Regions from separate parts of the Homo sapiens genome. Here region 2 is linked to region 1. Evidence: fine-mapped expression QTL. A gene starts in region 1. The other region holds a variant in brackets. All regions are shown on one strand. Distances are between the middles of the regions.

Region 1 (2,902 bases):
GCAGTGAAGGCAGCCTCATTGGGCAGACCCACACACCAAAACCCAACCAGGACAGCCAGGGGGCCTGTGAGCTTGGGCTGCTCGCCCAGATGGCTGGGCCCCCATCCTGGCTGTGCAAAAAAACTTCCATACTTCCTCTGGGAGCAGATGTGGATTCTGCCACGAGCAATAACCACCACACACATCACAAGAAAAACGGGGCAACTCCAGAAACACCTCCTCCAAATCCCTGGAGATTGGTCTCTTTCCTGGGTTACATTTACCTCTCCTTTTACAACTGGGGGCAGGGGAGATGTTGATTCCACCAGCACCAAAACCCCTCCACAGCTGGCAGGCCAGAAAGATATTAGAAAGGCAATTCCTTACCCATGCCCTTCCCATTGCCACCTTCAAAGGAGATGGAAGGTGATCACCTAGGACAGGTCTCCTCGACAGAGCTCCCCAAGAGAAAGCTGCTTCGAGGACCACCAAGGAGTGTTGTGGAGGGTCGGGGGCTTTATTTCCAGTCCGGGCTATTTGGGATGTGCGGGTGGCTTGGTGCTTTCCTGTAAGGCACTTCAACACCTCAGTGATGACTCTTAGGTGTGACCAAGCCAGGAAATAAAAGCTGCGGGAGTTGGGGGGGCGGTGCTGTCTGCCCTGGTGATGAGGGCCACACCCTCGTTAAAATGCTAAGGCCCCCCCCCAAGAAAAGCCAGAATGAGCTCTTTTTGCCTTTCTTCCCTTAGAAATACTTCCTTTCCTCTGTGAGGACAGTCAGGATGGAAATCCAGGAAGGAGCAGAACAAACCCCGTCCGCACCTTTGCAGCCAGGCCATGCCCGATTTTGGCAGCGGCCTTCACACATTAGTCACCGCGACAGCCTGGGACCCTCGGATCCCCGGATTCGGCCCTGGCACGGAGTGGGCGCAGGGTTCCAGACCAGTAGCTAGAGGCCATGGATGGGGGCGGCCCCTAACTCTTCCCTTCTTCCGCCCTCACCCGCAGGGCCATCTGGGGTCTCAGCTTTGCCCAGGAACTCGGAGGAGGGAAGCCGGGAACGTCGGGTCGGCGTAGGTAACAAAGCTCCGCGCTTTGCGCGCCGCAGGTCTGTCCGGCATCGGGCCCCAAACCAGCAACTCTTACCTGGGCCGACCCTGCCGGGTGGGGTGGGGAATTCCTTTTTCTCCATCGCGCTCCCCACGGTGGGTGCGGATGGTCTTTTCTCCCCCGACAAGAAACTCCCCATCTGGGCCCGAGAGCCAGCAACTCTCGGCAGTTCTCGAGCAAACTCTCGGCTCAGACCAGAAAAACTCAGGGAGGCTGGAAATGCGTCCCCGCGGCGCGAGTGGGAGGGGTACCCTGACCGCGTCCCTGGAGGCTTCGCCAGCCTCCCGACACCCGGGCTCCTTGCGCCCTTCCGCCGCAAGCCTGCACCCCCAGCGAGCCTCTCCACTACTCCAGGGCCGTTCCAGCCGCCCAAACCCACCGCCCCGGGCGCAGCCTTTTGCCCACGGGACTCCCGCGCTTCCCAAGCTCTGTGCCCCCAACTCTCGGGTACTCACCGCCCAGCAGCGGCAGCAGCAGGACGCTGAGCAGAGGCAACCGGCGGGGTCTGGCCGGGGATCCCCGCGCAGCTCCCATCGCGGCGGGCTCAGGAAAAGGAGCTGAGGGCGCACGGCGGGCGCGCAGACTGCGCTCCGCGGCGGGCACAGGAGGCGGAGCGCACCGGAGCGCGGGCGCCGCAGCAGCAGCCGCAGCCGGAGCCCGACCCCGAGGCGTCCCGAGGCGTCCCGAGCCGGAGCCGCGCGCGCCCAGTACCTCCGAGTCCCCGCGCGCCGCCGCCGCCGCCGCCAAGCCCCGCCCCACGACGCCCCCTCCCCTCCGGCCCCCGCACGGCGCCCCGCCCCCTCGACGCCCCCTCCTCGCCGAGGCGGGGAGGAGCTCAGTAGGGGGAGGGGTCTGGAGAGGGATGGAGAATAGAGAGAGCAAGGCTCAGGGAAGTGCAGGGGACCTGAGTATTTGCTGTACCCACCACCGACTCTGCAGGGATCCGGGAGAACCTAAGTGACTTGTGCGATTCCGTGGACCCTGGGGAGAATGGTCCATTCTGGGCATACCTGGAGGCTCTGGCCAACAGTTCCCCCAGAATTCTCCAGGTGGGGGCAGGGGAAGAGGCGGGCCCCGCCAACTCTTCAGCAACCCAAAATCTTAACGGCAGACCCAGAACAGCAGGGTGTCCTTAATGTCCCCAAGTAACCTGAAGATGCTGTGTAGCCCGGAGAGGGGCTGAAGTGTGCATGACTGGGGTCTGGTTTGGCTGTAGACCAATCTGAACCCAAAGGTAGAAACACGCTGGGCTCTGAAAGCCAGGCTGAAGTCTGCTAACTGACAAATTCATCCCAAGTCCATCTCCAGGCAGTCTGGGCTGTGTCAGGGTATGGCCAAGTCTCCAGCTGTGGGGAGGCCCAGCACAACCCTTGTTCCAGGCACCCCCACCCCCAGCGCCACCACCCCCACATTCTTTCTTTGTTGTGAAAGCAGCAAGGGGTGTAGGAGGCGGGTCAGGAGGAGTCAAGCTTTAGAAGATGGGCCCCAGCTGCTGCTCAGGCCTCCAAGATATGCTGAGAGGGGATGGATAGTGCCTTGTCTCCCCTCTGGTTCCGGAGGGCCCCCCAGGCCTGTTTAGACCTCCCTTCCCCCAAGCAGCTGGGAGGAGGAATGGCAGCCACAGAGGGCCTCACAGCCAGGAGAAGTGGCGCCAGGACTCCAGGGTCCTGCCACATGGCCACCACATGTCCCTGACAACCCAGTCCACAGCACCTTCTCCTTGGGTTGTGAGCCTCCTTCTTCCCCATCCCCCAGATGCCTTCCTACAGGCCCTGCTGGAGATGATACAAACAACGGGAGGAAGAGAGGAGAG
Region 2 (2,902 bases), 64 kb before region 1:
GAACCTGGGAGGCAGCATTGTAGGAAGAGAACACCCCCCCACTCCCCCACAACACACACACACACACACCGACCGTTGGATGTTAAATAAACGACAGCCCGGCTCTGAGCAAGGACTCTAAGACTGTGCAGCAGCATGGTGAGACGGCCGAATCCCCACCGCTGCCACAAAAATGGCTTCTGTGCCATGTTCTGTACACAGGGGCTGAGTACAAGGTGACAAACGTCTGGGCCCACCACTTCCTGTGCAGCATAACCCTCCCCAGCCCATACCCACGACATAGAGGGGGGCCTCCGTGTGCTTGATGTTGCAGCTGTTGCCTGCAATGCAGGTGTAGCGGCCTGAGTCCTCAGGGGCCACGTCATGGATCACCAGGGAGCCATTCTGGAAGATGTGCATCCTGTCGGGGGAGAAGCCATAGTGCTGGCCAGCTCGCAGGGAGGGGGGCTGCAGGAGAGGAGGGACGGGTGTGGGAGAGAGGTGGCCCTACCTGGGTCCCAGCTTGGTGGGGTCCAGGATGCGGTCCTTGCCTTTCCACTGAATCAGCGGCTTGGGGTCCCCCTGGGCCTCGCACTGCAGTAGGGCTGTGTGGCCCTGGTACACAGTCGTACGCTCTGGTTCCACTTTGAAGGTGATAAAAACTGGAAGAAAAGAGACCAGCGAGGCGCAGGGAGGGGTAAGCCAAGGGGCTGGCAGGGTACACGGTGCTACCCCAGAGGGCCCTCCCAGCCCCAGGGCCCTGCCACGGTCGCACCTGCCACAGTGAGCTGGACATGGGCACGAATCTGGCCCTGCGGCCCGTTGGAGGCAATGCAAGTGTAGTTGCCAGCGTCATCTCGAGTCACCCGGGCAAAATGCAGGGTCCCAGCGTTGTCTGTCACCCACTCTGGGAGGCTGCTCCCATCTGCAGGGGTAACAAAGGGAAATTATGGGAAGGATCAGGGTTACACAGACAGCTGGCAATGCCTTCAGTCCCTCACCTCTACTCAAAAACACACCATCGCTCCTGACCACCCACAGGCAAAGTCCAAACTCCTGAGCCAAGTGTTAGAAGCCCCTCCGTTATTTACCCCTCTTCCAATTCTTCAGTCTCACCTCTTCCTCCTACTGCCCTGTGTGACATTCCACGTCTGCCAAACCGGACTCTGTTTGGGCCCAGATCGGCCCTGTTCCTACTCCGCTGCCCATCACTTCTCCCTCCTAGAGCCCATTCCCGCTCTTTACCATCCCAGGCTGTAGATCCATTTTAAGCCTCACCTCTCCCAGAAAGTTCCCCCAGACCTGAGCAGAGGGAGCCTACTTCCTCCTCAGAATCTACAACTGTACTCTCTCACTCTAGGTGGAAATGTCAAAATTGGTCCAACC[T/A]TTTAAAAAATAATTTGGCAACTCACATCAAGGGCTATAAAAATGTTCATACCCCCTTTCGTGCATAATTATCCCAATTCTGGGAATCTTTCCCAAAGGAAATAAACCTAAATCCAGAAAAAAACTTTGGCTTAAAGATGTTTATTGCAGCAATGAAAAAAAAGGGGGTGGGTGGGTGGCTGGTTAACAACCCAAATCTCCAACATTTAAGGAACAGTTAAGTAAATTACAGTGAATCCAATTGTTGAAATATTATTAGGATCATCAAAACAAATATTCATGAAGAGTGTATAAAGATGTGGGGAAATGCTTGACAATGGTAAGTAAAAAAGGGTATAAAATTACACCGTTACAAAAAAAATAAAAATAAATAATTTTAAAAAATATTTTTAAAAACTACATAGTTATCTGTATTGTCTAATTCTACAATAAGCATGTCTACAGGCATGCACCACCATGCCTGGCTAATTTTTAAATTTTTTGTACAGACAGGGTCTCCCTGTATTGCCCAGGTTGGTCTTGAACTCCTGGGCTCAAGCGATCCTCCCACCTCGGCCTCCCAAAGTGCTGGGATTACAGGCATGAGCTACCACACTCAGCCAATCATGTAAATTTAATAACTGAAACTATATATACAATAAAACTGCTAGGTAAAAAAAGAAAAACATATGCACAGAAAAAGAAGACATACACCCAAAGATGATAAACGGCAGGACTGTACATTTTTTCTCCCAATATTTTTTTTTTTTTTTTTGAGATGGAGTCTCGCTCTGCCACCCAGGCTGAAGTGCAGTGGCACAATCTCGGCTCACTGCCACCTCCGCCTCCTGGGTTCAAACAATTCTCCTACCTCAGCCTCCCGAGTAGCTGGCACTACAGATGCGTGCCGCCACCCCTGGCTAATTTTTTGTATTTTCAGTAGAGACGAGGTTTCACTACTCTATGTTAGCCAGGATGGTCTCTATCTCATGACCTCGTGATCCACCCACCTCAGCTTCCCACAGTGCTGGGATTACAGGCGTGAGCCACCACGCCCGGCCTCTTCCAGTATTTTGTAAAGGAGCCCATGTAACTTTTGTTTCTTTTTTCTTTTGAGTCAGAGTCTCACTCTGTCAGCCAGACTCTGGTGCAATGGCATGATCTCGGCCCACTGCAGCCTCCACCTCCTGGGTTCAAGCGATTCTCCTGCTTCAGCCTCCTAAGCAGCTGGGATTGCAAGCATGTGCCACCACGCCTGGCTAACTTTTGCATTTTTAGTAGAGATGGGGTTTCACCATGTTGGCCAGGCTGGTCTCAAACTCCTGGCCTCAAGTGACCCACCCATCTCGGCTTCCCAAAGTGTTGGGATTACAGGCGTGAGCCACTATGCACGGCCTCCATGTAATTTTTATGTTGGAAAAGATAAACTATTTTGGAAAAGGGGAAGAGAGGACTTTACAGCACTGTCTGAACCAATCCAATCACTTGTTGCCTTGAGTTGTCTTCCATGTTGTCCAAGGCTATAATCTGACCTCTTCTGTGTCTGGCTTTTTCCTTC

What was found. PIP is the estimated chance that this variant, and not a neighbour inherited with it, causes the effect.
Region 2: its variant is fine-mapped to the expression of PTK7 in whole blood (TOPMed, PIP 0.95).

Annotation. Positions count from the first base shown.
Region 1 is chr6:43,075,210-43,078,111 of GRCh38, reverse strand. PTK7 (protein tyrosine kinase 7 (inactive)) reads right to left here and starts at 1,798. Exons shown (of 20, transcript NM_002821.5): 1 at 1,545-1,798. The coding sequence starts at 1,623. KLC4-AS1 (KLC4 antisense RNA 1) reads left to right here and starts at 1,882. Exons shown (of 2, transcript XR_002956347.1): 1 at 1,882-2,417; 2 at 2,845-2,902. RefSeq lists a silencer at 1,711-1,810 and an enhancer at 2,140-2,663.
Region 2 is chr6:43,139,670-43,142,571 of GRCh38, reverse strand. PTK7 (protein tyrosine kinase 7 (inactive)) reads right to left here. Exons shown (of 20, transcript NM_002821.5): 11 at 755-904; 12 at 491-641; 13 at 273-400. Among named protein-coding and RNA genes, the nearest start is that of SRF, 30 kb to the left of the region's middle. The variant T/A (reference allele first, on the strand shown) is at 1,366.